Linked DNA regions of Homo sapiens. The protein of the gene in region 2 purifies or fractionates together with the protein of the main gene of each other region. This does not show direct contact. Each region holds a gene or a part of one and is shown on either strand. Other genes may lie near its edges. The genes, in order: ABCB1, EDAR, LSS, NEIL3, VAMP7, ANXA13 and UBL3.

Region 1 (4,573 bases), on a different chromosome or scaffold from region 2:
AGGCAATGAGAGATGATATTTTGTAGAATCCCTTAAAACAATTCCCTTTTTCAGGAGCCAGATTTGTAATATGGATTCAATAATCACTTCTTTTTCTTTTTTTTTCAAATTTGCCTTATCCAACATTGCTCAGTGGGGAATGGCTTTTCCCATGAAGTTTTTTTTTTTTAGTATAGTGATGCTGTGGGTGATCCTTGGTTGTCATAACAGATGTTTTCTGTTTAACTGTGATTGAGATAAGCAGTTTAAATCCAGTGTTCACTGGGCATGAATATACTTCACACACTGGAGGCATCCAAAATAGGGAGTGTGGGGTTTGATATCGGACCAACTTGATTCAAATGGCAGCTTTGTCACTTATTAGCTGTATGATTTAGGGCAGCCAGCTAAACTTTTCAAGCCTCTGCTACCTCTTCTGCCAAATGATATGACAGGAATGAACCCTAACTTTCAGCGTGTTTTGAGGACTAACTGAGATAATGAATATAGAATCACTTAGCAAAGTTCCTTCTGTGTAAATTATTGAGCAATATAATTCCATGTGATTTAGAAAAAATGAATAATGACATTAATTCTCATCAACCCCAAAGAGAAACACAGTTAAGTCTTTACCAATAAGAAACTGATTTGCACAAAACAAAAAAACAAAAGGCCTAAAGAGAACACGGCCTTGTGGCAAAAAAGACAACCTGATAAAGGATCAGTGTCTTAGGTGTGTGTGCTTTATAATTAACAAAAAATGTTCATATACACTGTTTTATCATGATACAACATCTCTATGATTGCTGGGTAGGGAGAACAGATAGAATCTTGCCTGTTTTTGCCAATGAAGAAATTGAAGCCAAAGATTCTAAGAGAATGGCCTAACAACATATAACTAGTTATTACTAATTTAGGATTCAGAACTGGGTCTTCTGACTCCTCTGCTAGCATTTATTTCCACTTTACCTTACTGATGATCTAAATAAAAAAAAAACTAGACATTGAAGAAATATAAAAATATCCTATTATAATATTCTAGCCCTGTGAAATTTAAATCATTGTTTATTGAGCAAGTAAGACTAATTCTGCATTCTAAATTGAAAAGTATTTATATTTCCAAAATATTTTTAGTATGGGCAACATAGTGAGATCTCATCTCTATAATTTTTTTTTTTAATTAGCCAGATATGGTGGCACTTGTCTGTAGTCCCAGCTACTTCGGAGACTGAGGTGAGAGGGTTGTCTGAACCCAGAGGTTGAAGTTGCAGTGAGCCAAGATTGCACCACTGCAGTCCAGGCTGGGCAACAAAGCAAGACCTTGTCTTAAAATTTTTTTAAAAAAATTTTATGCTATTTTTAATTGACAAATCATAATTGCATTACACTTACGGAATACAATGTGATGTTTATGTATACACACACATACACACAAAATGTGGAGTGATCAGAGCAAGCTAATTAACATATCTATCTCCTCACTTGACACCTTTTGAGGTGACACATTTGAAATTTACTCTTGGCTGGGTGTGGTGGCCCATGCCTGTGATCCCAGCACTTTTGCAGGCTGAGGCAGGAGGATTGCTTGAGGCCAGGAGACCAGGCTGGGACACGTAGCGAGACCCTGTCTCTAGAAAAAATAAAAAAAATTAGTCAGGTGTGATGGTGCATGCTTGTAGTCCTAGCTACTTGGGAGACTGAGGCAGGAGGATTGCTTGAGCCCAGGAGGTAGAGGTTATGACGAGCTATGATTGCACCACTGCACTCCATCCTGGGTGACAGAATGAGAACCTGTCTCTTAAAAAGGAAAAAAAATGAAAAAAGGAATTAAATGTACTGTTAGTTACAAACTTTTAAAATATTTTTAACACCTAGTATTTATATGTTGCCTCGCCATTTTAAATTTTAATTACCTATGTTAGAAAAAGACAGAAGAAGTATGAAAAAAAATTGCTGTCACTATCTCAGTAGCCTGATGGTTTTTCTTCACATTCCTCAGGTATTCTTTTCTGTATTAATTGGGGCTTTTAGTGTTGGACAGGCATCTCCAAGCATTGAAGCATTTGCAAATGCAAGAGGAGCAGCTTATGAAATCTTCAAGATAATTGATAATGTAAGTCTGAGTTGGCCATCTATCCACCTATCTAAAAGATTGTCCAGTTAAGTCAATTTCTTTGTCACTTTATCCAGCTCTCCACAAAATATCACTAAAAGTAGTTATTGTAACCTAGTAATCTCTTAAAATTTGATTCTGTTTAGAAGCCAAGTATTGACAGCTATTCGAAGAGTGGGCACAAACCAGATAATATTAAGGGAAATTTGGAATTCAGAAATGTTCACTTCAGTTACCCATCTCGAAAAGAAGTTAAGGTACAGTGATAAATGATTAATCAACAATTAATCTATTGAATGAAGAGTTTCTGATGTTTTCTTGTAGAGATTATAAAAAAGTGCATGTATATTTAAACCTAGTGAACAGTCAGTTCCTATATCCTGTGTCTGTGAATTGCCTTGAAGTTTTTTTCTCACTCGTCCTGGTAGATCTTGAAGGGTCTGAACCTGAAGGTGCAGAGTGGGCAGACGGTGGCCCTGGTTGGAAACAGTGGCTGTGGGAAGAGCACAACAGTCCAGCTGATGCAGAGGCTCTATGACCCCACAGAGGGGATGGTGAGATGACCCATGCGAGCTAGACCCTGCGGTGATCAGCAGTCACATTGCACATCTTTCTGATGTTGCCCTTTCAATTACAAATGTATGAAAGTCACACTTACTTTTTATTCCAGGTCAGTGTTGATGGACAGGATATTAGGACCATAAATGTAAGGTTTCTACGGGAAATCATTGGTGTGGTGAGTCAGGAACCTGTATTGTTTGCCACCACGATAGCTGAAAACATTCGCTATGGCCGTGAAAATGTCACCATGGATGAGATTGAGAAAGCTGTCAAGGAAGCCAATGCCTATGACTTTATCATGAAACTGCCTCATGTAAGTTGTCCTTGCCCTTTGCCTTTCTAGAGGTGCAAAAAATAAAATGCAGGCCTACTATGCAGGAAGTTAGGAAACTACTATAAATCGGAAGAAGGGAAATCCTAAGAAGGGAAAGTAAGATTACTTCAGATTTGAAAGCTCTAGCAGTATCAACTGGTCGTAGATACATTTTTAAAAACTGAGGTTGGTTATTGTGTTAAATAAGATTTAAAGAACTGGACCTGTATTACTTGTGAGACTTGGGCTGTGTATAGGATTCCTTACCAATTTAAAATATGAGCTGAGATAGCTTGTCCTTATGCTAAATCATTCTGGGTTTTCTGTGGTAGAAATTTGACACCCTGGTTGGAGAGAGAGGGGCCCAGTTGAGTGGTGGGCAGAAGCAGAGGATCGCCATTGCACGTGCCCTGGTTCGCAACCCCAAGATCCTCCTGCTGGATGAGGCCACGTCAGCCTTGGACACAGAAAGCGAAGCAGTGGTTCAGGTGGCTCTGGATAAGGTCAGTGAGGCTTAGTTCAAACCAACCTGATTTATAAGCATAAGAACATTCTACTACTAATTCTTGTTAATATTGGTCTTAGAAAAGGAAATTTCTGATAGCTTCTAGGTGATTCCTTCAGCTATTAAAATAAAAGCATTGGGCCTCTTTGAAATCTTTTTCTATTTGTTTGTTTTATTGTTCAATTTCTATTTATTTCTCTGATCTTATTTTAAATGTTGATGAATACATTTTCATTTGAAGACACTTGCTAATCTTTTAAATTAAAAAATAGAAATATAGACACATGTGAAAGTTCATCTTCATTGTGATCTTCAAAACTTGACTATGTGGATAACCCTGTTATTTAGGTTTTGAGAGTTTGTAATATTGCCAAGAAGAGAAAAATACAACCTGAAGGTCCATATATAATTTTCCAGGTGTTGAATGCCACTTGAAGACTCTATGCGAAATAAGAAACCTCTTATTTCCAGGAAAGGGGCAGATAGCCTGTGATACTGAAAACCTACCTAAGCCATGACAGGTTATTGACTATCAACAGAGTTTGACTGTCCTGCAATTCTGGAGTCCATATGACTCATTCACCAAATAGCATTTGAGTGTTTGCCGTGTGCCGGGCACTGTGCCTTTGATCTCCAGCACGTGATAGTAACGGGGATAATTCTGTGAGGACCGAGAATGTGGAGATGGAGACATTATAACCAAAGGTGTTCCAAGTTGAGATGTCACAGTAGAATTCAAAGATGAACTCATATTTGTTTCAACTCTCCCTGTCTCTAATAAAACAACACTTGAATGTTCCTTAACATCCTGTCAATGTGCTTAATAAATTTTTGAGAGAGAAAAAAAGCAGCTTACTAAACATTCTGTGAACCAAAATAGAGGCCGATGGGATTCTGGTTACTATTTTTCCCCTCATTTTGCTTAATCTGTGATTTCATCTCTGTGTTTTTCTTTTTCTTTCTTTATTTCCTTCCTTCCTTCCTTCCCTCCCTCCCTCAATCCCTCCCTCTCTTGCTCTTCCTCTTCCTTTCCTTTCTTTCCTTTCCTTTCCTGACCTTCCCTTCCTTTCATTTCCTTTCCCTTCCCTTCCCTTTCTTTCCC
Region 2 (4,573 bases):
TATTCTTTTTTAGAGGCATCCTGCTTGCTTCCTGTGGTTTGGCTGAAGACCTTTTTTTCTTAAAAAAAGGATTATATTTGTTAGTAACTAGGTTACAGCAGTGAAGCCCATATGCAAACACAACCCTAGAGACAGGGTAATACAAAGACAATGAGAACCATCATGAAGCCCCAGTGGGACCCACTTCCTCATCAGGCTTCAGGGCCTCACAAGGAGGTGGTAGGACCCATCCCTGTCCCCACTCGAGAGAAGGTGAGGTGGAGCAGGTGAGGTGGCACCCCAGGTCCTGTCTCTGAGACCTAAGGACAAACAGCAGGGACAAAAGCTCAGTGCCTTGCTGTCTTTTAACGTACAAGTGTCAGGGTTCAATTTGTATTTAATATTCGTGTATGAAAGCAGTATATATTTTTTCCTAATAGGGCCTCCAAATTTTCCCTGTCTTCAACTGCAACTCAAGTCATGGGGCACGTCTCTGCCTTTTTGATTTCTGGGAATAAGAAAAGCCTGAATATCAGAAGGGAGAGGCTGAGACAGAATGAGATAAGGCTGGGCTGGAGGCTGAGGAGCAAATTCAGTCTCTAGGGAGGCCCTATTTAAGAGTTCCATGCAGGGTGACCAGGTCCTGCCCTTGGTCCTGGGAGCAGCAGCTTGGATCTGGCACACAGGATCTCCACACAGATGCTGGATCGATTGGAATGGCTTTGCAAGGTGAATCATAGGAAGATCATGGGGTGGGGGCAGGAGAGGAGGGCTTAACCTCTGCTCTTCCTGTAACCAGTTTGGTGACCTTCTGGTGGCCTCTGTGCCCCATCTGCCAAGGGAGGCACTGTTGCGGGGGTGTCCTTCCAGGCGCAGCCTGCAGTGGCTGTCGGGCAGAGGCCTGGCAGGGGGGTCCGAGCACATTGCCTGGCTGGGAGCTGATGCTGTGGGGTTGATTTTTGGAAGCTACGCAGGACCAAGTCCAAATGACCATCCCACTGGATGAATAAAATATTGACTTCCCTCTACCCTCGATTTTAGAGCAGGGGCTGGTTCCACACCTTCATGTGTGGTAAACGCGGGAAAGGCTTCACCTGCCAAATCTCCTCCTCCAGAGGCCTCTTTACACCATGTGGCTCCTTGGGAGCCTGGACTCGGACCCCAGCCCTGCTGTTCACTAGTGTGTGACCTTGGGCGAGTGACAACTTCCATACCTCAGTGTGGTATCCTATAAACAGGGATGATACAAGCACCTTGCTCCTGGGCTGTGGAGGGAGGATGTGTTCACAGCCCTAGCCCAGCACTTGGTGGGCAGTAGGCACCAAATGCTGTTAGCCGTCATCACCACGGTTGTTACCAGCATTACGGTGGCAGCAGTACTGGCACCGGCACGGGTGGTACTGGTGTGTTGGCCGCAACAGGCATGCATCCTTGGCTTTATGTTCTGCCCTCCCAGTCTGGAGAAGGGGCATGAGGAATTCGGATGTTAAGGAGGAAGGCCCAGGGAATTTGGCAGGATGCAGGGACAGGGGCCTGACCCGAGAGCAGCAGGCAGCTGTTTCCACAGGCTCCTCACACCACCTGACCCCTGCCAGTCAGCAAAGAGGTGGTGGGGACTGTCTGTCGCCGAACGTCCCCATAGTGTCCCAGGCTAGCCTGTCAGTTCACTCGGCTGCACCCTGGTTCCCCTCCCTGCTCAGGATCCACAGGACCCCAGCTTCAGCTTGGTGCTGGGGGCTTCCACATACCTCTTGGTGGGCTTTGCTGGAGTTGCTGTCAGCTTCTCAAATTCATCCTTCTCGGAGAACATCACCACGTTGTCTGCAGGGAAATGGGGAGGTTGGGGAGATAGGAGTTAGAATTGGCTCATGGCTCTGCGCTCAGCCCAACCCTGCTCTTCCTGTTGGGCAGAGCTGCCCGGTGTCTGTGTGGCACCACCCCACGGTAAGCACAGTATGGTTCAGCATGTGAGAGCAGAAGCAGCGAGGAGGCTGCTTCTGGGAACGCCCTCCACCCAGAGATGGGCACCGTGCACATGGTGTGTGGAAGCCCTGGTTCACAGACCTGGGGCCTCTTTCTTCTCCTCGTCCTTGCTCACTTGGGCCTCCACGCTCTTCCCCGGGTGGCTGGTGCAACAGGCTGGGGAGAGAGGAGGGAGTGAGCAGCCAGGCTCTCCGACAGGGGGAGTTGACGGAGAGTCCAGGAAGCAGGGCACCGGCGCATGGGGGCCGTCACCTGGGGCAGAGGGCTTTGTCTTCAGGATGTAGAACATGATGATGAGGACGATGGCGATGGCCATGATGAAGATGGTGGACATTGCAATGATCAGGGCAGTGGCCAGGTGTCCTTGGCCTGAGAGTTCTGTGGGTGGAGAGAAGGCATGAATGACCCAGAGCTCAGGATCCCTGCTGGTCTTCCCTCCAGGACTCCGGCCCCTGGAAGCAATGGCCCTGCCCCTGGGATGCTTTCAGGGAACCCTGAAATCTGAGGTGCTTGCTTAGACTGAGAACCAAATCCTCCGCGCTGGTTTTGGCTGCCAGACCAGGACTGCCCACAGCCCTGCTCGCTGCCCTCAGACTGGCCTCTCCAGACTTCTCTGGGGTCACCTGATTGTTCCTAGGGAGTTTGCTCTTGCTTCTACTGCTTTGGCAACCTGAGGGCAGGGTTTGGTGTGGAGAGGAAGAAAGGCCAGTGAACAAGAGTGGCTGGAAGGCAGCACAATTCAAGTTTGGGCATTTCCAAACAAAAGTCAGGATGCGAAAGTCAGCTCTGGATTCCAGGTTTGGCTCCATCTTGCACCTCATGCAATTTCAACCTAAGTGTCATTGTAAGAGCCCCAGGGCACAGGGGGTGCCTCGGCTGGGCCACCTATTCCACCTGCACTGCCGCCTCCACCAGGCAGTCCCTCAGTCACCCCGGGGGATTTTGCTCAGTTCCCAGGTTAATGTCGACCCTGGATGCATAAAATGCCCTGAAGCTCATTCTCATTCTCTAAAATAACCAAACAGGACTCTGATTGTCTTGAACTAAGATCCAGATTTGCCACCACCCAAATAGACAGGAGACCAGCATCTGAAGCTCCCAAATCATCTCGGGGGAGGTAGTGCCAGAGCTGAGAACCCCGCATGTGGGCGCTGAGCCTCCCCTGTGGGTGCATCTGCAGGAAAACCAGCCTCCCAGCATCATCTGGGGAATACCTGTAATAGCGTTAGCATGCCAGGTCTGGATGACATAAGTGTTTTAATATTCTCCGTGTTTTGAGCTACTCCCCCCGGGGCCTGTGCAAATGAGATTCATATATCCTCGCCCAGCAGTCCTGCCTTTTGCTCTGCGTTAGCGCGTGGGAGGCCCAGAGATGAAGCTGACGAGCTGGGTGCTCTGAGGGCTCTGGAGGGTACCTCACGGCTCGCTGAGACCTGGGCCCGAAACATGCTTCAATAATGGGCTGGCACTAAACCAGTGAGAGAGAAAGGCCAAGCCAGCTGGAGGGCTGACTCTGAGAGACATATTAAACTTTGGGGTCCTCCTCAATCCCTTCTTCCCTGGTTAGGGAGAATGAAATGTACATTCTGCAAGTTAATATTAAAGTGCTATGGTCAGCATGTTTATATGAAAACCAGTGATAGAATTGCTGTTAACTCCCGGCCAAACCAAAGCCCAGGACGCCTGGTCTCTCCTCCTGGCCGGGCTTGCAGCTGCCTGTGCTGTCCACCTGCCGCTATGCCCCCGCCTTCACCACCAGCACCTCCCAGCGGTCCCAGGACACCCATAGAGGGATCAACTCTGATTGCAGATATAATGACTTCCTGCACGGGGGGCAACATGTCATTCAATTACATTAGGGAGGTGAGGCCAGGTGGGGAAGCGCACCATAATCATCACTCATGATCATTTCCTCTCCTCTTCTGAGCTTTCATCCGAGTACCACCTAACTCCAGGTGATCGATACCTGAGCACCCTCCTCACCTTTGTGGGCGTGCTGGAAGGGAGACAGGGTGCTGCTGCCCGAGGTGCCAGGGAAGTTGGCAGAAGCTCCTGAAGTGGCTCCCACACCTGCAAGGAAAATAGAGTCCCTCAAATGATCCAGAGAAGCTCCACCTTCAAAGACGCTGCCACAGAGCTCATGGATCTGGATTCATGATCATGAATGGGCCTGAGGCAGTGATGGCTGAGGGGAGCTAAATATTTGTATTTCTTAGACTGTTTAATGAACCCTAAAGAGTCATCGTTATTGTTCTTTTTTTTTTTTTTTGGTGAGACGGAGTCTTGCTCTGTTGCCCAGGCTACAGTGCAGTGGCGTGATCTCGGCTCACTGCAAGCTCTGCCTCCCTGGTTGACGCCATTCTCCTGTCTCAGCCTCCCAAGTAACTGGGACTACAGGCACCCACCACCACACCTGGCTAATTTTTTTGTATTTTTAGTAGAGACGGGGTTTCACCATGTTAGCCAGGATGGGCTCGATCTCCTGACCTTGTGATCTGCCCGCCTCGGCCTCCCAAAGTGCTGGGATTACAGGCATGAGCCACCGCGCCCGGCTGGTTATTGTTCTTTAAATGAAAACACTCATGTGATAAGTCTGCTAAAACTAAACAGT
Region 3 (3,902 bases), on a different chromosome or scaffold from region 2:
GAGTGCAGTGGCACAATCTCGGCTCACTGCAAGCTCTGCCTCCCGGGTTCACGCCATTCTCCTGCCTCAGCCTCCCGAGTAGCTGGGACTACAGGCGCCTGCCACCGTGCCCGGCTAATTTTTTTTATTTTTAGTAGAGACGGGGTTTCACCGTGTTAGCCAGGATGGTCTTTATCTCCTGACCTTGTGATCCGCCCACCTCGGCCTCCCAAAGTGCTGGGATTACAGGCGTGAGCCACCGCACCCGGCCCCTTCAGCCCATTTTTTAACCAGGTTGTTTTATTGTTGGGTTTGAAGAGCTCTTTTGGATACTGATCCTTTGTCTTTTTCAAATATATTCTCCCAGTCTCTGACTTGTCTTTTCATTTTCTTGACATTCTTTGCAGAGCAGAAAGTTTCAGTTTCATTAATTATTTTATTGAGACAGGGTCTCACTTTGTCACGCAAGTTAAGAGCACAGCCGCGCAACCACAGTTCACTGTAGCCTCGGCCTCCCAGGCTCAAGCAATCCTCCCACCTCAGTGTTCCGAGTAGCTGGGACAACGGGCACGCACCACCACACCTGCCTAATCTTCTGACTGTTTTGTACAGATGGGGTTTCACTGTTATCCAGGCTGGTCTCCAACTCCTGAGCCCAAGTGACCCTCCCACCTTGGCCCCTCAAAGTGCTGGGACTACAGGCATGAGCCAGAAATGTATTATTTTAATGAAGCCCAACCTATTAATGTTTTCTTTCGAGGATCATGCCTTTGGTGTCATATCTAAAGAGTTACTGCCAAACCCAAGGTCACCTAGATTTCCTCCTATGTGATGTTCTAGGGGTTTTATAGTTTTGTTTTACATTTAGGTCTCTGATTGATCTTGAGTATGTCTAGATGTGAAGGGTATGTCAAGGTTCATTTTTTTTTTACAAATGGAGTTTGTTTCAGCATTTGTTGAAGGCTGTCCTTTCTCCATTGAACTGCCTTTGCTCCTTTGCCACTGATTTTCAATTCAGTTTAACTCCACTGTGGTGGGGGAGGATGCTGTGTGTGACTTCCGTCCTTGCTAACATACTGAGACTCACCTGGTGAGCCAGCTGTGGTCTACCTTAGCACATGGGCCACGAGCTCTTGCAAAGCCGTGTGCTTCAGCAGTGTTAGGTGAAGCATCCTCTAAAGACCGCTCGCTTGTGTTGGCTGATGTTCAAATCTCTGTCCTTACAGATCTCATGTCTGTCAGTTACAAAGTACGGAAAGCACCCGTTAAAATTCTGTTTTTATCTCATTCTCTTCAATTCTGCCATTTTGCTTCATGTATTTTGAAGCTGTTATTTAGTGCATATACATTTGGGGTTGTTATGTCTTGATAAATCGATCTTATCATTATTGTCTCTTTACTCATTTCTGGTACCGTTCCTTGTCCTACCGTCTATGTTGATATTAAAAATATCAAGAGTCTGAAACTTTACATCATAGTGAACAAAGAAAACCTAATATGATGCCAGGGAAAAGATTTCAGGATGTTCAAAATCTGTTCCTGATAAAAATAATCTGAATTCAAAAATCTTTCATGACTGATTTTTAATCACACTGAGGCAAATATCCCCCTCAGACAGAGGCTGCACCGGTACAGCTGCCATCTCCTCTTGGTGGTGTCCTTTGTCAAGAGCATGTCAGGGTGATGAGTCATCTGGGACAGGTCACCCTCCCAGCACCGAGAAGCCGACGGGGGAGGAACAGACTCCTCTGCATTGTGATCCAATTGTGAACAAAAAGTCCTCTTCGTGGAACAGGAAAAATACACTCCCTCTAAACAATGGATTGAACACAGATGTGATTTCTAAAGAAGACTGAAGGCAGGGATACTGACACTGAAGTCCTGCCTGTGTAATAACACCGAAGAGGGCAGGGAATCGCTGCGTCCTGTGACTTGAAGGCCACTGTGAAGGAAAACAATGCAGTGAAAGAAAGTTCCTCCTATGTGGACATTGTATCACGTTTATTTATCTTCCTGGATATGCTTATGGCCTTTAAAACATATTAAAATAGGCTATGCTATTATCTCTTAAAATATCTGTTTTCCCTCAGGTAACTGGAGACGCACCCTGCTACTCCTCACGTCACTCTTGTTCCCTAAACCAGGCTGGGCCTCCCACTCGCCCCACAGGCAGGTGACGTATGACAGCCAGAAACCCCAAATCTGCAGTTCTCCCCAGGATGAAACGAAACACAGTGTGACAGGCTTCTGATAAGGGAATCAATGTCTGTTTATTAAGGCAGATGCTCATAAAAGTGACTTTCAGTAACATTTTCAGTATAAAAATGGATTTACATTTCATTTCTGGAAAACCGTTTTGTACAGTCTGACCATGGCTAGGAGTCCCAGGGACAGCAGCCTCTGCTCAGGGCAGACTCTGTGATTCACTGTCTGTCCTGCTGCTACCCCACGTGGGGGAGAACACGTGGGCTGAGAAAAAAAAACAGCATGTGCAAACCTGACAGATGTCAAGGGTCCCAACACAGTTCCTTCAGCGAAAATAAAGCCCAGTTTTAAGATGTGCAGGGAAGTGTTGACACTGAACAGGCAGCTGACCAAGCCCTGCAGGGCTCTGAGCAGGCAGGCGAGTCCCAAGGAGAGTCAGTGACAGCACATGGGGCAAGGGAGCTGGACAGAAGACCCCAGAGGGTGCGGCACCTGGGTGAGAGCCCTGGACTGCACACCAAGGCAGAGGGGTGCCCCTGAAGGACTCTGGGCAGGCAATGACAGGATCTGAGGGTGTCCAGACGCAGATCTCCACTGCCTGAGGGAGAGTGATCAGCCAGGGGGAGAGGCCAGGGACTGCTACCTGCCCAGAAGGCGGCAGGGAGGGGAAGAGCAGATAAGGAGGTATAGGGTGTGCCCTGGGCAAGGCAGCAGGGGTAACGAAGCTCTCAGTGACTCCTCCCAGTAGCCAGGGGAGAGCAGTGACAGTCTCAGGTGGCCCTGAGCATGTGAGCTGCTCATCCACATCAGGCAAAGGCAAAGCCAGGACCTGAACTTCCCACCCCAAGCCCTACATCCATGCAAGCCAGACCAGACTGGGTCAGAGGCTAGAAGGGAGCTCACAGGATTGCCTGGGGAAGCCTCGGCCCAAAACCTGGCCCTCGCTCCAGCCCAGAGCACCCACCTGGGCATGAGACTGGCGGCAGCCGTAGGGGTGCCCTGGGTATATGCCGGGCTCCCAGGGTGCCATACCTGCCAGCCAGCCCAGGGAGTGGTGATGGGCTGGGTGCTGGCTGTCCCTGCACATAGCAGTGCCCCGCGGCAGTAACTACAACTGCTGCCTGCCCCTCACCCCTGGTTATGCTCGGCCTCCCCTGTGCATTTCTGTGTCCGTAAGTGTCCCCTGTGCATTTCTGTGTCCACAAGACTACTATAAACCCTGTAGACACCTCACAAACAGCATTCCACGCAGGTGGGTTCATGTCCCAGGGGCATGGGGCTCCCTGCTGCACAGACTTGGGATGTTCCATGACAGACCCTGCATATGCAGGCGAGCTCACAACCCAGGGGTATGCGGCTCCATGACACCACCCCATACTCAGGCGAGCTCACGACCCAGGGGCATGAGGCTCCATGACACCACCCCATACGCAGGCAAGCTCACGACCCAGGGGCATGGGGCTCCCTGCTGCACGGCCTCAGGATGCTCCATGAGCAACCCCCGCACTGGGCTATTCACGGATGCACACTACCTGCCATTGTCACAGGGTTGCCCTCGTGTCCCTCAGCCCAGCAGACAAAAGGTGCAGGAGAAGCCTGCCCAGGGCCGACCCCAGCCCAGAGCCCACTCGACACTAAGGAATCACACAGGCACAGCTGCTCCTCTCCCAAGAACTCAGCTATTGGTCAGAAAAAACCTCCTAGCCTCACTACCTTGA
Region 4 (4,573 bases), on a different chromosome or scaffold from region 2:
CCCTCCCTGTTCAAAAAAAATACTCAACAGAATATTAGCATGGTTTACATGTGAAAACTGGCAATTCCTTTAAACCTTTGAGAAAGAAATTTTATTTAGTTATGGAATATCAAGATGGAGCAAGATATATTCCTGACTTTGTATAATTAACCCTCTTAGAAATGTAACAAACTCAAAATCAAAATTCAGTCTTACCAATAGGCCTTGAGGTCAAGCAAGCATCACATGCCTTAGAAGAGGGCTTATTGATTAAAGTACACACCACACAGGTCCAGTGCTCTTCCGACTTCCGAGCCACGGAGTCCATAACATGATCCACCCTGCTAGATGTCCAACTGATTATAGTATTTCTAGTCGGTAGCTTGCTATAAGATAATTTTTAAAATTAATCATTGTTATTATTGCCTTGTTCTTGTCTGGATATTTTAGAAATGATTATAGAACCATTAATACCCCAATGCTATCTCTTTATTATTGCTTGGAAGTTAGTACTGTATCTTAGAGTCTTTTTTTTTTTTTTTTTTTTTTTTTTTTTTTTGTAGAGATGGGGTCTTGCTCTGTCATCCAGGTTGCAGCGTAGTGGCACCATTATAGTTCACTGCAGCCTCGAACTCCTGGACTCAAACAATCCTCCCACCTGAATCTCCTGAGTAGCTAGGACTACAGGTGCACATTGGTCTGCTTGGCTAATTTTTAAATTTTTAGTAGAGATGGAATGCTGTGTTGCCTAGGCTGTCTTGAACTCCTGGCCTCAAGTAATCTTCCTGCCTCAGCCTCCCAAAGCGCTGGGATTAAGGCATGAGCCACTGCACCTGGCCAGAGTAAAATGTTTTCACCTGGACCCCCCTTTAACAACTAATTGTTGTTAAAGTGAGAAACATCAAATAAAAGTTATTTAGAGTCAAATAATCGAGTAGCTTTTTTTTAAACCAACTAAAAATATTTGATATCACATTAGGAAGTATTTCTCAAATAATGTTTTAAGTAATTGGTACTTTTTTCCCAAACAAAATGAAAATACCTTTATTCAATTAAATTATGGGAAAATACACCTATGCAGAAATTAGAGGATTGAAAGATGTGAAAGTTTTATATTTACTTCATGTGCACAGAAAACTCAGGAAACTCTAGAATTTCTCTACAGTATCTGCTGAGCACTATGTAAATTCATTAATTCATAATGATGAAAAAAGATATCTCTTTGTGTTGTTTCCCTTCATGTAAGACTGTTTCATGGTGGATAGCCAATTAATAGATTAGCAAGCAAACAATAAAACCCTGATTTTTGGCCACAAATATAAATCATGATTCTCCATCTGAAGTCCTTCATTGACCATGTATTTTTACACAAAATGCCTTTATACGGCTGTGACATAGTCCTACTCTCTAATGCACAGCTAGCTATAGGTCTGGATATAGAGCATGTCACACAGTTAAGCAACCATGGCAGTATCACGGATTCCCTTCATGATCCCAAACATTAATACTGAACAAAGCTCTTGCAGGTAAAGGCTATGTATCTTACATTTCAGAACATGAGTTCTTTGACTTTCAAAGGTAACCTTGTCTCCTGTGACATTTTGTTCCTTACATATAATTACACTAGTTTTAAAATTCAGGAGTGTCTGGTAAAATAATAAATAGAATAAGAAAATCTGAAAGTAAGATACATCTCATTAGGATTCTTTTATCTTTACTTCCCTTGACTTTTAATGCCACTCAGTATTTATTATCCCTATGGAATATCAGATCTTCTACAGAATTTGTTTATTTGACCTAATCTCTGTCCTCTACTAACTTACTTTGAAAGGCAGCATGATGCATTTATCTATAATTAAACAAACACAATTTAAATGACTTTTAGATTTTCCATGTGCTCCAACTTTTCCCTATTTTCATTTTCTTCTGTCCTAAAAGTTTCCCTGATCATAAGGAGAATTTTATTGTTACATATGGAGGCTTTGGAAACATTCTTTCCTTTCTTTACTGCTCTATTTCTTAATCACTCATTAATAAATTCTTCCCAATCTCCACTTGGATGTGTAAGAAGAATCCCAAACTTAATGTTTTGTAGTAGGATGAATAATGGCCTCCCAAAGACATAGGGCACAATTCCAGGAATCTATAAATGTTACTTTATAAAGAAGGAGGGTTTGCAGATGTAATTAAGGATCTTGGCGTAGAGAGATTATTTTGGATTAGCTGATGGTCCCTTAACCCAATCACAAGTGTCTTTATAAGAGAGAGGGAGGGGGAGATTTGATACACACCAAAGAGAAGGCAAGGAGACCACAAAGGCAGAGGTTGCAGTGATGTAGCCACACATGAAAGAACGCTGGCAGCACCGGAAGCGAGAAGAGGAAAGGAATATGATTCCCCCCAGTTCCTCCAGAGGGAGCACAGTCCTACCCACACCTTAATTTTGGTTCAATGAAACTGATGTTGAGCTTTTAGCATCCAGCGTTTGAGTGAATGCATTTCTGTTGCTTTAAGCTACCAAGGTCATGATAATTTATGATGGCAGCCAGCGGAAATGAATACAGACAAAATTCATGACCCACGAGGCCGGGCGCGGTGGCTCACGCCTGTAATCCCAGCACTTTGGGAGGCCGAGACGTGTGGATCACAAGGTCAGGAGATCGAGACCATCCTGGCTAACACGGTGAAACCCCGTCTCTACTAAAAATACAAAAAAAAAAAAAAAAAAAAATTAGCCAGGTGTGGTGACGGGTGCCTGTAGTCCCAGCTACTCGGGAGGCTGAGGCAGGAGAATGGCGTGAACCCGGGAGGCGGAGCTTGAAGTGAGCCCAGATCACGCCACTGCACTCCAGCCTGGGTGACAGAGCGAGACTCCGTGTCAAAAAAAAAAAAAAAAAAAAAAAAAAATTCATGAGCCACCAATCTGCAATTCTACTATTCTATCTCATGTCAGGAAATGGCATCAGTATCGCTCAATTCATCAGGCCCAGACCTAGAAGTCATCCTTAACACTTCCTTTTCTCACATCCCACTTCCAGTCCATCAGCAAATCCCGTGGGATCTGCTGCAGATGCAAATTTACATGAAGCAAAAGAAGTTTAACTTTCCATGGCTTGACGTGTCCTCTGCACACTGGGGTGGGCAGCATGGAGAATGGGAGCCATAACTCGACCACATGCTGGGGACTCAGAGGATTGCAGGCAGCGGTAATCCTGGCGCCTGGGTGCTGCCAGCATCACCTCACATCTGTTCAGTGCCCAGGGAAACTATTGCCCTGGTGACCTCAAGGAGCAGGCGGACTCTGCCCTGAGGCTTGAGGAGAAGGACCTGAACAAAAGATACTGCATCGTTCCGAGCTCACAGGCCACCATGATCCAGGCTGCCAGGCCACTCTACCCCTATACTACCCACCCTAACTCAGAAACAACCTGGTAGAGGGGGGGAACCTGAGGCACCTGAGGAAGATCAAAGGGCTGGGGTTCTCAAAGTCAAGTCCTCAGGCCAGCAGCATGGGCGTCATGTGGGAACGTGTTAGACATGCAGATTCTCAGGCCCCTCCTCAGACCCACTGAATCCCCAGCTCTAGGGGTGGGGCCCGGCAATCTGTGTTTTCACAAGCCCTTCAGAAAATGCTGGTACACACTAAAGTTTGAGAGGCACTGCTCTTAGGGTTTCCTTACAGAGAAGTACTGCTTAAAGAAAAGATAGAGGAAGTTGGAGATGTGTCACTATCAACAGCCAATTGTGAAGCTAAAAGTTTTCTCATCTAGCCGTAATAAAAGATGTAATGATATTGTTGGTGGTCATATGAAAAGGCAATCAAGGAGTTTGCAGCCAAAAACATAAAGGAACACAATTACACAGCTGTGTCAGGCAGTGAACTAATAATATCTCATTTTTCTGATGTTTGTGGTGTTTAAAAAATATAATTTGTTGTGATTTCTTATTCTACATATTCACATTAGGACCTAACGTTGTAGTCATAATTTTTTATTGTTTTTCATAAATAAGGGCCCCCAAATTATATAAATTTCTGGCCTTAACCCTAACTCAACTTCCAAAATTATCCTAAATTCAACCTTTTTTTCCCACCACCTTCTCTCTCTTCCCCGTCACCAGCATTTACCACCTGCACTACTGTTGAGAGCCCCCGATGCTGCCGCTTCACTCTGGTTCCATGACCGTCTCTATTCCACACAGCAGCCCAAATCATCCTCAGAAAACCCAAGTCACTTCATGCTGCCCTCCTGCTCAAACTCTCCCAGTGGCTTCCCAGCTCAAAAGTATTGGCAACAGTCGCCAGAGTGATTAATCTTTTCAAACATTAAGTCAGTTATTTCACGCCCGTTCAAAACCCTCCAAAGGCTCCCCAGTCTACTCAGAAACTTGCCTTGGCCAAGCCGACTCTGCATGCTCCTTGGTCCCTCCCAAGCAGAGGGGCTGCCTCTGTCTCTCATTCCCTCTGCTTGGTTCAGTCATACATGCCTTCTTTCTCTTCCTTCAACAACTCAGAGGCTTTATGCTTTTCTGGGCTACCTTCTTTGAAATATTTCCCCCACCCTCAGATTGCTACAAGTCATCAAATCTTTTCAAC
Region 5 (4,573 bases), on a different chromosome or scaffold from region 2:
TACAGTCTCTTCTCCCTCTTCCCCTTCCCAATATACCTGTTTCTTTCAAGTCAAACTGATAGAAGTACATAAGAAATAAAAAGATCTCTATTCTAGCTACATAGCACAACAGCATGTGTATTACCCATTAGAACGATAGCTGCAAAAGCATAATTGGACTCTTAAAGCATGAACAAGAGATGACATCTTAGGAGGAGGATGTAATTAAGATTAACCCCCAATAGGCCATATGGTTTTCTTTGCTTTTTCCTAAGTTCTTAAAGCAAACATCTTTTCTACCAAATTCTCAACATTTGAGTATCCACTTTGAGTTAGTTACTGTGCTGGATGCTGAGGATACAAAAAAGCAAAACCACCAAGTCCCAGTCTTCATAGGGATCACAGTGTAAGGAATTACAGTGCAGCATGGCAAACAGGATGACAGGAAAGTTAAAGGCAGTACATGGTGCTCTGGGGACACATTAATAGATGAGGCACGAAATGGAGATTTGCCAAAGGGTAACCAGAAAGACTTCCCAGAACAAGTGATGTCTGATTTAAGACCTGAAGAATAAGTAACAGATGGCAAGGTAAAGAGTGAGCGAAAGGCCAGGCGTGGTGGCTGGCTCATGCCTGTAATCCTAGCACTTTGGGAGGCTGAGGCGGGCAGATCGCTTGAGCTCAGGAGTTCAAGACCAGCCTGGGCAACATGGCAAAACCCCGTCTGTACACAAAATACAAAAATTAGCCAGGTGTGGTGGCACACGCCTATAGTCCCAGCTACTTGGGAGGCTGAGGCAGGAGGATCGCTGGAACCCAGGAGGTTGAGGCTGTAGTAAGCTGAGATTGCGCCACTGCACTCCAGCCTGGGTAACAAAGTGAGACCTTGTTTCAAAAAACAACAACAACAAAAAAAAGTGAGCAAAGAGTTTTTCCAGAGAGGAAGCAGCAAGCATAAGGGCCTAGAGGTAAAACAGCACCTAATAGATTTAGGAAAGTAAAATTGGCTCACATGACTAGAGTACAGAATGTGAAGAAAAAGTGAATTATCTGGACAGACAAGACTGGAGAAGTAAGCAAAAACCAGGTTATACAAGACTTTATAAACCACACTGTGCATTATCCTAAGAATAATGAATAAACATCCAAAAGTTTTAGCCTAGGGAGGGTGTGATCAGATTTGCACTTTAAAAAGGACACATTAAAAAAAAAAAAAAAAAAAAAACAAAGGACACATTGGCTAGAGTGCGGAAAACTGACTCAAAGGAGGACCAGACAGGAGACTACTGCAGTATACCGGGTAAGAAATGAGGAGGGAAATAAACTAAAGTAGAATGGGTAATAAAGAAAAAGGGACAGAGAAGAGATAGGAGGCAGCATTTATAGAACTTGGTGACTGGCGTGAGACAGGTTAACTAAATTTTGCCTCCCACATTTGTACCTTGGGCAAGTGGATAGATAGGGGTACCTGTTGAATTATATTAATGTTCACAGAGGACTGACATGAATTACAAGGAGATACAGGAACTCAGGCAAAATCTTTTCCTCCAATACTCTAAAACTATTTGCACCATTTCCACCAATGACTTCCACATTGCCATATCCAGTGGCTCTCTCTGAAACATATGATAGTGTTGACCACTTCCTTTTGGAAAGTGTTTTATCTTCACTAGATTTCTTGACATCAGGCTTGCCTGGTGCTATAGACTGAACTGTGTCCTTTCAAAATTCATATGTTACAGTGTGACTATATTTGGAGACAAGGCCTTTGGGAGGCACTTAAGATTAGATGAGGTCATGAGGGTGGGGTCCTCGTGATGGGATTAGTGGCTTTAAAAAAGAGGAAGAAAAAGATCACTCTCTTTCCACCACCTGAGAACACAGCAAGAAGGTGGCCATCTGCCAGCCAGGAAGAAGGCCCTCATCAAGAACTGAATTAGCGGGCACCTCACGCAGTCTCCAGAACTGTGAGAAACAAGTATCTGTTGTTCAAGCCACTCAGTCTATGGTATTTTGTTATAGCAGCCCAAGCAGGCTAATATACCTGGTTTATATCATAGTCCCTTTCCCTCTACACTAACGTTTTCTAGCTTCCTTAGCCTCCTGCTTTTTTCACACTTACTTACTCCCTGGAGGGCAGCATGCACTCTCATGTTTTGTTGTAGTTTGTTTTCAGCTACCACAATTATGCCAATGATTCCCAAATCTCCATCTGACCTATCTCCTGAGCTCCAGGACTACCTACACTACTGTCTACTAGACATATCCAACTGGACATACCATAGACAGCTTAAACATGACATGCCCAGAATGAAAGTCATCACTTTCCCCATAAAATTTGTTTCTCCTAAACCAGACTTGTAAGTCACTTGGTGCACAGGCCACAAAAGGTAACAAGGTATGATCCCTGCCATCAAGAAGCCTACAGTCAGGGTACAGAAATAAACAATCATTTCAATTATAATACAGTCTGAGGCCAGGCACGGTGGCTCATGCCTGTAATCCCAGCACTTTGGGAGGCCGAGGCGGGCGGATTGCCTGAGGTCAGGAGTTCGAGACCTGCCTGGCCAACATGGTGAAACCCCATCTCTACTAAAAATACAAAAATTAGCCAGGCGTGGTGGCACACGCCTGTCATCCCAGTTACTCGGGAGGCTGAGGCAGGATAATCACTTGAACCCAGGAAGTGGAGGTTGCGGTGAGCTGAGATTGCGCCATTGCACTCCAGCCTGGGCAACAAAAGCGAAACTTCGTCTCAATAATAATAATAATAATAATAATAATACAGTGTGAAAAGTGTTACAATATGAACAAACTAGATGCTATGTAGACACATAAAAAGAGTGTCTGATTGCGGTGCCTGACTCAGTGTTAATGTTCAGGGGTTTCTGGAAAAGGAAACATCTAAGCTCAGGCACACAAAGTGAGATTTTTAAAAAATTAAGTAGATAAATATATTCCAGTAAAAGGTAACAGCTATTGCAAAGGCTAGGAAGAGAGAAAGAACCTAGCATTGAATTGTAAATGGCTAAGTATGAAGTATGGCTGGAAAGCAAAACTGAGGACTAAAGTAGTAAAAGATGAGCCCACAGAAGGAAAAAGTGGCAGATCTTGAAGAATATTCCAAGTCCCGTTAAGGAATTTTACCTTGAGGGCAGACAGTATCTGTTGAAGGAAGGAATATGATCAGAACTGCCCTTTTAGAAGCATTAAAGTACAAATTAAGAAAGTATTTCGCTTGGGACCTGTAAAGTGAGCAAAAGTTTACAAGGAGGCTTAGGGGGAGAACAGCATTCCTAGAAGATAACAAAAGCATGAAAAAAAGGTACCAAAGCTCGAAATAACACAGCTAGATCAGAGACACAGGCAGAGAGGCATGGCAGACAGATAACATCTCCTTCTACTATAACTGCATTTTAATTGGATTACATATTCTATACTCTCTTAAAGCTACATATGGCTGTGACTAAATTCTGGCTCATAATACATGAGTGGAAGATATATGCCCTATTTCCCAGTCTTGCCTCTAAAAGGACGACTACATGTGCTTTCCCTGGACATTTTCCCAGGAACTGCCTAGAAACACAAAGACTGTAAGTCTAATACATTTTTAGAGAAAGTATAAAGCCAAAATCATAAGAAGCTAAGATTATTTAACCCCTAACCTCTAGGCCCACAAACCTACGCTGGCAGCAAGAGGACTACAAAATGGGTACAATTCCCAAAGATGATATACTCTCTAACTACCATTTTGGATGTGGCCAGAAAGGAAAAACTTCCTGGAGAACAAAGCCAGGAGTCAGGGAAAAAGGGTGAGGGAGTTCCTCCAAGAAAGCAGAACCACTAACCACTTCCTGGTCAGAATAGGGAGTCTTTGAAATTGTGTGAGGCAATTATTTGATCATTACTGGAAAGCAATGACTTCTACATGTTTCTCATTCTTCCCTTTTCCAAATGGGAGTTTGTAACTCTCACTGTGATGATCCTTTTCTTATTTCACCATTGTCTACTGGGTTAGGCTGGGAAAGCAGGGAAAACATATGACTTATCTTTTACTTTATGGTCAGTGGACCACAGGAGCCACACCAGGGCCTGATGGATAGGACTGTGTACCACCTAGACATGCTGGACTTGGAGCCAAACACAGTGACTAGATAGGTCTTTGGAGCTACCTCTCTCAGAGAAGAGGCGTATTCTATGTTTGGGAAGAAAGGTTCACTGAAATATCTGGGTGGCCAGGAGAGTAGACTGGAAGACTGCAAGTCATCCCCTGATATCCTATAACTTCCTCCAGAGTAACAGAGTTTTAGTTGAGCCTACGACTACATAGCCAGAGATGACAATTCCTGGCCTCCCTTCTAGCTATGCTAGCTACATGACTGTGTAGTGAACAGTAAGATGTAAGTGGAAGCTTCTCAACAATATCAGGCCACTTCTGGGCCCTGCCTTTAAAATTACTGGGCAAGCACTGGGATATAACAAGCACCAAAGGAGCTGCCTTGGCCAGAAGTGGAAAGCACTAATTGCTTTGGGAATTAGGGAATTGGAAATGGCAGAGCCACCCCAACATCCCAAACCACTCATCTCTGGACTA
Region 6 (4,573 bases), on a different chromosome or scaffold from region 2:
AAGGAAATAAAATCTAATTTCCTTAGTGTCGTAGGTTGAACAGTATCACCCCCACCCCCTCACCCAACTCATGTCTACTCACAGCCGCAGAATTCACCTTATTTGGAAAGAGAGTCTTTGTAGATGTAATTAGTTAAGGATCTCAAAATGAAATCATCCTGGATTTAGAGTATTTCCTAAATCCAATTATTGCTGTCTGTATTAGCTCATTTTCAAGCTGCTAATAAAGACTTACCCCAGACTGGGTAATTTATAAAGGAAAGAAGTTTCATGGACTCACAGTTCCACATGGTTGGGGAGGCTTCACAGTTGTGGCAGAAGGTGAAGGAGGAGCAAAGTCACATCTTACATGGCAGCAGGGAGAGAGGGAACCCTGGGTGGGGTGGGGAAATGAGCAGAATGGGGGAGTTCTCCGGGCTGCATTCCGGGTGAGAAGCCTGAGGAGGCAGGTGTGGTGCTAACCCGGGTTTCAATGCCATCATCTGGGCATCTCTGTAGGTTGAATGGTGGGAGTTCCCCATAGTCAATGCTGAGGCACAGCCCCAGCCTGGGCATGGGAAAGGCTTATGCTTCAACTGTCATTCTCAAACTTGAGCACATATCAGTTTCACGTGGAAGGCTTGTTCAGATGCAGATTGCTGGATCCCATCTCCAGAGTTTTTGATTCTGTAGATCTGGGGTGGGGCTCCAGAATTTGCATTCCTAACAAGATCCTGGATTATACCAATGATGCGGGCCTGGGAGACCTCATTTGAAAACTACTGCACTAGAATACCTGACGTTAGACTCGTGGCTCTCAACTTTGGATACATTAGAATCATTTGGGGAGTTTAAAAATATACAGACGCCAGGGCCTTGCGCATGAATTGGTCTGGGAATGTAAATAGATATAAGAATTTGAACTCCAACTGGGCAAAACACTGATTTGTTTAAGATTTATTTAGAAAATGCAATGAATGCATTGATGAATTTATCCAAATTTTATTAAGCATCTACCATGCTGCAGGCATTGTGTTGGTGATGGGGATATATAGGTGAACAAAATACAATTCTACCTTCAGGAAACCATCAGTCCAGTGTGAGGCAGGTATACAAAACAGGTGGTTCTGTTGGGCACAGTGGCTCGCACCTGTAATCAATCCCAGCACTTTGGGAGGCTGAGGTTGGAGGATTCTTGAGCCCCGGAGTTCTAGACCAGCCTGAGCAACATAGGAAGACCCCCCATCTCTACAAAAAATTAAAAAGTAGCTGGGCGTTGTCATGCTCGCCTGTGGTCCCAGCTACTTGGGGGTATGGGGGTGCTGAGGTAGGAGAACCCCGAGAGGCTGAGGCTGCAGTGAGCAGTGATTGTGACACTGCACTCCAGCCTTTGCCACAGAGCGAGATCCTGTCTCAAAACACAAAACAAAAACAAAAAACCCAGATGGTTCTAAAACCACATGGGAGTGGAGTAATAGTTATGCAGAGAGAACTATGGAAGCCTTAAGGAAGAGCATCCAATCCAGCTTGGGGGGCAGGGGATGGAGAAAGCTCAGGGAAGGGGCTAAAGAGATGACGAGGTGATGATTCAGTTCAACAGTTTCAGAAATCCCAATAGGTTAATCTTCTATTTGGCGTAAAAAGAAGCTTTATTGAACCCAAGGCATAGTGTTAAAAATTTGTGCCTAAATCCAAATCTGTGCTTGACCTCTTACTAGCTGTCCAACTAGGAACAATTTACCTAAACTCTCTTTGCCTTACTTTCCCCATATTTAAAAGGGGACTAATAATAGTATCTCCCTGATAGGATTGTTGTGAAGACCAAATGACGTAACACATGTGAAGTGCTTGGTGGCGTGAAGGACTCAAACTTCCAGGGTCACTGTTCACACCCTCAAAACAGCCCACAGTCTAGTAAGCACTTTATAAATGTCAGTTATTATCATTAACATTTCAGAAGATCTCGTTTAAACTTCCAGTTACAACCATCACCACTGGGAGTTTTAGTTTTGGTTCCTGTTGCTGTGGCTGTAGCACTGGGAGGTGGGCTCACGCTGCTGGGACATGCAGGATTCTCTCCCCTGCACCAAGTGGCTCCAGACTCCCGCGGCTCTAGAATTCTTGTGTTGAGGTTTCATTTAACATGTTCTTCCTTCTATCAGTGTATCTGTCCTCTGCCGACTTCTTACCACCTCCTTACAATGGCTGGTTTGTTTTTTTTTTTTGCATCCACCATAGACAAAATATCCAAAAGGCCAAGATTGCATAATTGTACCTAAAATGTAGCTACCCTTCAGAGACTTGTCTTTAAATGAAGAAGGTATGCATTGGTGCATGTCATGCTTTGACATCAAAGGCCCTTTTCACTTCCTCCTACACTTTTGCAGTGGCATTCTGAAGGACTAACTTTCTGGGATAATAGATTTCCTGAGGTCAAGTGCAGTGGCTCACACCTGTAATCCCAGAACTTTGGGAGGCTGAGGTGGGAGGATCGCTTGAGCCCAGGAGTTTGGGACCAGCCTGGGCAACATAGGATGACCCGTCTTTAAAAAAATTAGCTGGGCATGATGGCACATGCCTGTAGTCCCACCTACTTGGAGGTCTGAGGTAAAAGGATTGCTTGAACCAGGGAGGTTGAGGCTGCAGTGAGCCATAATTGTGCCACTGCACTCCAGCCTGGGCAACAGAGCAAGACCCTGTCTCAAAAAAAAGTAATATTTCCTAATCTTATTTATTTAAGATGATCTTAAATAAATAAATAAATAAGGATCTTATTTATTTATTTAAGTCTTTTGAAATGATCTAGACTGCTTTCTGCTAGGGCTTGATCATGGGTCTTCTGGATTTGGGATCACAGTTTAATGCACACCCTTGGTTAAGACCATACTTATTTTAATTTCAAATTCTCAGCCATATTTCACCTGCCTCCAGAGCCTGTCTTCTTTTCTCAGGAATCTGGATCTATTTCCCCACTTGTCATGCAGCTTTCAGATGTTCTTTGTCCACGTTCATCTGAGTGTTCACCTTGCCTGGTGTTCACCTGCCACAAGTCCCAAACTGTTCTCCACTGGAGACAATATTTATGTTGGCTAAATATTGGCACAAGCAAGTCATAAACTTGGCATGTTCACAAACAACGTGGCAGACCACTGAACAGATGTTCTAACATTTACAAATCGGTTTTCAGTTAGGAGCATGTGCAATGACCATCTGCCTTTGTCCCCAGTGTGCAGAGCTCTTCTTGAAAGGTTAGCCATATTCTACAGTCCAGTGTTTCTCAAACTCTGCTGCACATTAGAGCCACCTGGGGAGCACTTACAAACCCTGATGCGCAGGACAACCACCAGACCAATTAATTCAGACTCTAGGGCTGGGACCCAGGCATCGGTGGCTTTTAGAACTCCTCAGGTGATCTCAATGCAGGCAAGTTTGACAACGCGTTCCATAGTCCAGTGCTTCTAAGATTTTAATGTGCCTGAAAATCACTTGAAGAGTCTGTTAAAATGCAGACTATGATTCAATAGATCTGAGTGGGCTGAGCATCTGCATTCCTAACAAGTGCCCACGCAATGTGGATGCTGCTACAAATCCAGGGACCATACTTTGAGTAGCAGGGCTGTAGTCCTTTCTATTGCCTGTTCATTAGCCTTGCAAGTAATTTCCCAGAAATCATGAGTCCATTTGAGTTTGTGATTATTTCCACATTTATCAATGGCTCTACTAGGTCTCCCTCCCTCTGTCATTCTGCACATATCCTATAGCCACACTCCCGTGGTAAAGTAATCTTAATATTGATCTCACTTCTGTATTTTTCCCTAGATAGTGATTCTTGTGAAAACCCAGACAATAGAAGAGTCATCTAGCTAAACCTAAGCAGATTTTTCCACTGATCTGATCTTTCTCTCTGTGTACACTCTACCTGCAAAGCTCACTGGACACAAGGACATGTCCTCCAGGATAAGGAAATTCTTTGAACATTGTGTGATTTGGCGGATGATAATGACCCAGTATCTTGGTTACTGCTGCTCCACATAGGTTAGTTACAAACACTAGGTCTTTGGTTCAAAAAAATCATTAATAGTGGCAAAAGAATTGAGGATAGCACAAAAGTAATTTTCGTTTCAGGATTGGTTAGGATTTCAGATGATAGTACCTTGAAAAATGCAATTTCCTGGCCAATATTCTACTGGCTCTGCAATAATAGTTGTCAATTATCTATGGGCCCTGGTCTGTGGACATATTCTTGGGGGAATAAAAACTTTTCTAGGAGTCTTTTGCATTTCATGCTGATAATAACTTAAAAATTAATATAAAGCATCCTAGATCATCAAGATGACCAAGTCCTGGCTCATGATTTAAATGTCTGCATTTGTGTTTGTATTTACGATTGTTTATATGCCAAACAGCCATACTTCAATAATTGCAGGCTAATGATGAAAGAAGAGTGAACAGAGGGAGATTTAATAGAAACACCATGTGTGTAAGCCGAGAGAAGGTCCCACGGCATTACAAGGAGGCTTACAAACAAAAGTGTCTCAGTAGGTTCAATAGAGAAATATGATAAAAGAACTCAGAAGTCACATACCACATCATA
Region 7 (4,573 bases), on a different chromosome or scaffold from region 2:
GGCAGAAATCAGTAAAAAGTTAAAAACAACATTTATCTGAAAATGGACTCTGAAAAGACTGCGTACAAAGAGACCCAAATTACAATAAGCAGATTTTGAAAAGGAGAGATCATAGATACTACAAATACCAAAACAATTATAAAAGGATACACACACACACACAAAAACCTTAAGCTGAACTGGAAAATTCAGACAAAATGGACAAATCTCTTGAAAAGCAAAACTTGTCAAAATTGACAAAGAAATAGAAAATATGAATAGCTTTTTATGTACTGACGAAATACAATCAATAATCTTCACAAGAAAACTCCAGAGGGCTTCACCAGTGAATTCTTTCAAACATTTGTGGATGGAATAAAATCAATCTTCACAAATTCTTCCAGAGTATTAAAAAGCATTTCCCAACTCATCTTATGAGGTCAGCATAACCTTGATACCTAAATCTGTCAAATACTTTACAAGAAATTAAAATTGCTAGCCAATTGTTTTCATGAACAAAAAAAAACTCAATGAAGTATTATCTAGCATATACCATTTGAGTAATGTAAAATTAAAAGCTAGGTTTATCCAGAAATTCAAGGATGTTTTAAAATTAGGAAATATATATCCTTCTCTTTCCCACCCATCCCAAAATTAACACATATTTTTTGACAGAGCAACTACATTACTAAGAGTTTTGTCCTAAGGGAATAATCAGACAAGGCACAGAGATATGTTTAAGAATATCCATTATGTCATTGTTTGTAATAGCTTCTAAATGCTCATGAATATGGAATTCGCTAAATAATTTATATACATCTATCATAATCGGTTCAAAATTATAATACGGTTCTATACTTATTTGCATAGATAGATGTTCATAATATAGGCTGAGCTTTAAATATGTAAGGAGGCAGCTTTAGGCTAAACTTGATTTAACATGACAATGAGAATAGCAGGATACAAAAGCAAGACTATTTCTAAGGCAAAGAAAAACACTAATTTTATATGAAAGTAAAGAAAAACATATATCATAAGAACATTTTGTCTAGACACAATAAATTGCCATCTTAAGTACATAAACAAAAATGTTAATGTCAAACTTCAACAATTTTCTTCAGCAGAAAGAACATTTTCTTCTCAAAATCTAGTCAGAAAATTACCCAAATATATATTTACTTAAGACCAAAAATGCTACTAGATTTGACCAACCAATAGAGAATCTCTCTCTCTCTCTCTCTCTCTCTACATATATATATGCAGTTAAAAGTATGGAGACAAAAACAAAATGCCCCGAAATCACTAAATCCTTTACAAGTCAATCTATTTGTTACATATATATATAAAGCATTCAAAGTAGTACTTTTTAAGAAAAATCCACTGTGTAACAAATATATACATAAGAAGACTCAAAGTTCCAACAAGTTTAAAGGAAACTCCCTTTAATTTTACCAATTAGTAAGACAACCAACCTTAATTAAAATCATTCCAATCCAGATGTTACATAGTTTATTACAAAGATATATGAAGTAGGTTTCATTTCTACCATGCTAGCTCAGACCAATCAGTAGGGACTCCCTGGAGCAAGGTATTGGGAAGGAATCTAAGGCATTCTTAGGATAATGTGCCTGAGGGATTCAGTAATGTTTGCTCAGTTACCGTTGTGGGGAGGGGTGTAGATGTTTATCACTATTGCCACCAGACCCAAACTCCTATTCTAGCTCAACTTCTTCCTCGCTATGTGATCTCAAACAAGTTCCTTACCCTCTCTGAACCTAGGCTGTGAGAAAGTAAAAATGAGCTCGGTTGATAATCAGACTGTGATATCTGAAAGATAGAAGACCAACAGGTAAAAAGTTTTTCCTATGGCCACACTGCAGCTCCAAAATGACCAACAATCTCCCATTCTGTAAGTGATTATGTTTTCTCACCAATGACTTTCCAAATCCCCTTCATTTATCCTGTCTCCTAAACAAAGACTGCTGAAAGACCCAATTACTAACCCACCTCCAGTTGATGTACGATAGCATTCAGTCCAGGAGTCCCTGCTTCCAGCACAGCCCAAACCCTACTGAAAACTCCTCCCATTCTCTTTCTTTTTTTTTTTTTTTTTTTTTTTTAGAGACAGAGTCTTACTCTGTCGCCCAGGCTGGAGTGCAGTGGCGCAATCTCAGCTCACTGCAACCTCTGCTCACTGCAACCTCCACCTCCTGGGTTCAAGTGATTCTCCTGCCTCAGCCTCCGGAGTAGCTGCGATTACAGACGCCTGCCACAATGCCCAGCTAATTTTTGTATTTTTAGTAGAGATGGGGGTTTCACCATGTTGGTCAGGGTGGTCTCGAACTCCTGACCTCAAGTGATCCACCCACCTCGGCCTCCCAAAATGTTGGGATTACAGGTGTGAGCCACCGTGCCCAGCCCTCCCATTCTCTTTTACTGACACTTGGCAGGATCTGGCATACGCTCTTCCTAGCTGCAAAACAGTCAACCTAACTTGTTTCACCACAGATGCATTCCTGGTGGTCTTCACCTGGTGGGTATTAAGAGTTTCTTTATCTATATACCAACCATATTTATCCAGGGTGACTGTAAGGATTAAATTAAATGCTATAATGTAAAATGCCAAGCATCTGCCTGGTACTAGAAAGTACACAACAAATATTAGTTCTCTCTCCTCTACGAGCTCAAAGTAAAGTTATGTGTAATTTTTTTATCACCTAAGCAGTTCTTCACTATCAAGAAACTGCATCTCTGCAAAACATAACTAACAGCCAGAAAATTAGCCCTCCTAAAAAGAGAATTCTAAGCAACCAAAACAGATATGATCAAGTCCATGAAACAAAAGATACTCACTTTACTGTGAGGTAACTCCTAAAATCCTACTCAGACACCATTTGCTCATTTTAAACACATATTATTTTTAATAAACTTTGGAAATATGGTTTCCACACCCATAGCAAATTAAAACCAGCAACTGTAAATGGTTAGGAATAAGTAGGCACACTGATCACAGGAAAAAACAGCTGCTCAACAAGGCAGGAGACAGAAAACTTCTAACTATCAAACACAAGAAGTTAAAATGCTCAGAAATCTTTAGTCATCTAGTGCAGTGGCTCCTACATTTTTTTGACTGAAGATCCCAAATATAAAATACTTGAGGCACATACCTATAGTATATGTGTTTTCATTTATAAACATACACATAGTATAAAACATATACTAAAAACAGAAATTAAAAGATTAAAATTTTGTTTTTACTTTACTATTTTAACTATCAACTATTTTAAATATTAACTTGTTTTAATCTTTCAATCACTAAAAATGCTATTACTATTAACATATTAGGTGAGCATTATTATTAAATATATCTCCATTTTTTTAAATCTTAGTTTCTTCTTTTGTGAAGTTCAATGTATTTTGCACTTGGTTTTAAGAGCTGTCATAAGTCATACCTGAAAAACTTATCTTACAAAGATGAGATCTATATAGAAGAACATGTCACTTACTAACTTACTAAATCATATTACTTTTTCATTCTATCACCAAATACGCAAACATTTTTATTCAAAGTCAGCTACCTGATGTCAATGTTATTAAAATTTTCTTTTTCCTGACTGCAATAAGAATGTTTACAAATTAAAATGTTTGGCTTTCCAATAAATGGTCCAAAGTCAATTAAAATTCATTGTAAGGAAGATTTTCAACAGACTGTAAATACTTCAACATGCTTTCAAAATGTTCTCCATAACATGTTTCTTTTGAAAAGCAGGTACTTTCTCACTTACTGTTTAAAATGTCGATTTTGCCTTGAAGTGACAACTTGGGGATTTTTTCCCAAACACATCCGCTAGATTTTTATTTTTGGTAGCCTCTTGTCATCACGGATAAGAACAGCATATAGAATACTCATCTTTTGTAATAAAAATGTGTGATTAATCTTTGAGTTCTACAACTCTTAAATGCTTTGACAGCAAACCTCTGTTCCCCATCTCAATAAGAAGTATCATAGATTCTTCTTTTAAAAAGTATTTTTAAAGGGACTATATAACAGAAAAACTGGAAAAACTCTGAGAAACTCATGGTGCTGTTGCTGGCATCTACATTCTAGAATTCACACATCTTCCCTCAGCAAACCACACTCTCAGTGACCACCTGAATGCAGGTGGACCTAGGAGAACCTCACAGCCAATTCACATAGTATGAATAGAAAAGCTCAATTCTTTTCCCTTTTGGGGGACAAAATAAACAAACAGAAGTTCTCATATTTACTTCTCAAAATTGACTTGCTTCACCTCATTTTGTAAATTACTGATCTAGTGAAGGGGCATAAAGCTTCACAATCTATATTAGGTGCCGAGGGTATTATAGTTGTAGCTTATGCCTGTTAATACTACTACCATATTACACAGACAGGTACCCAATAAACACTGATTGAATGCAAGCAATATTATTCAAATCATAGCTCTAAGTCATCAAAAATAAGTTAAATTATGCATAGTATATTTCATTTAAGCAAATGCAATGGTAATCCAACATTGTTAGATTGGGCTATCTTAACACTCAACCTCCAAGTATTCAGAAAATTTACTGGTTC

Evidence for each region.
Region 1: the proteins of EDAR (region 2) and ABCB1 purify together in Homo sapiens (affinity purification with mass spectrometry; one large-scale study listed by BioGRID and IntAct). This does not show direct contact.
Region 3: the proteins of EDAR (region 2) and LSS purify together in Homo sapiens (affinity purification with mass spectrometry; one large-scale study listed by BioGRID and IntAct). This does not show direct contact.
Region 4: the proteins of EDAR (region 2) and NEIL3 purify together in Homo sapiens (affinity purification with mass spectrometry; one large-scale study listed by BioGRID and IntAct). This does not show direct contact.
Region 5: the proteins of EDAR (region 2) and VAMP7 purify together in Homo sapiens (affinity purification with mass spectrometry; one large-scale study listed by BioGRID and IntAct). This does not show direct contact.
Region 6: the proteins of EDAR (region 2) and ANXA13 purify together in Homo sapiens (affinity purification with mass spectrometry; one large-scale study listed by BioGRID and IntAct). This does not show direct contact.
Region 7: the proteins of EDAR (region 2) and UBL3 purify together in Homo sapiens (affinity purification with mass spectrometry; one large-scale study listed by BioGRID and IntAct). This does not show direct contact.

Annotation. Positions count from the first base shown.
Region 1 is NC_000007.14:87,548,244-87,552,816, reverse strand, and holds part of ABCB1 (ATP-dependent translocase ABCB1), read left to right. Parts: intron 1-1,978; coding exon 1,979-2,092; intron 2,093-2,238; coding exon 2,239-2,349; intron 2,350-2,520; coding exon 2,521-2,646; intron 2,647-2,762; coding exon 2,763-2,966; intron 2,967-3,298; coding exon 3,299-3,469; intron 3,470-4,573. UniProt on the Homo sapiens protein: Translocates drugs and phospholipids across the membrane. Catalyzes the flop of phospholipids from the cytoplasmic to the exoplasmic leaflet of the apical membrane.
Region 2 is NC_000002.12:108,908,733-108,913,305, forward strand, and holds part of EDAR (tumor necrosis factor receptor superfamily member EDAR precursor), read right to left. Parts: intron 4,033-4,573; coding exon 3,946-4,032; intron 2,341-3,945; coding exon 2,215-2,340; coding exon of another isoform or gene 2,119-2,214; coding exon 2,044-2,118; intron 1,801-2,043; coding exon 1,728-1,800; intron 1-1,727. UniProt on the Homo sapiens protein: Receptor for EDA isoform A1, but not for EDA isoform A2. Mediates the activation of NF-kappa-B and JNK. May promote caspase-independent cell death.
Region 3 is NC_000021.9:46,186,901-46,190,802, forward strand, and holds the end of LSS (lanosterol synthase), read right to left. Parts: 3' UTR 1,546-3,902; downstream 1-1,545. UniProt on the Homo sapiens protein: Key enzyme in the cholesterol biosynthesis pathway. Catalyzes the cyclization of (S)-2,3 oxidosqualene to lanosterol, a reaction that forms the sterol nucleus.
Region 4 is NC_000004.12:177,347,172-177,351,744, reverse strand, and holds part of NEIL3 (endonuclease 8-like 3), read right to left. Parts: intron 366-4,573; coding exon 196-365; intron 1-195. UniProt on the Homo sapiens protein: DNA glycosylase which prefers single-stranded DNA (ssDNA), or partially ssDNA structures such as bubble and fork structures, to double-stranded DNA (dsDNA).
Region 5 is NC_000023.11:155,890,933-155,895,505, reverse strand, and holds part of VAMP7 (vesicle-associated membrane protein 7), read right to left. Parts: intron 1-4,573. UniProt on the Homo sapiens protein: Involved in the targeting and/or fusion of transport vesicles to their target membrane during transport of proteins from the early endosome to the lysosome. Required for heterotypic fusion of late endosomes with lysosomes and homotypic lysosomal fusion.
Region 6 is NC_000008.11:123,730,481-123,735,053, forward strand, and holds part of ANXA13 (annexin A13), read right to left. Parts: intron 1-4,573.
Region 7 is NC_000013.11:29,840,060-29,844,632, forward strand, and holds part of UBL3 (ubiquitin-like protein 3), read right to left. Parts: intron 1-4,573.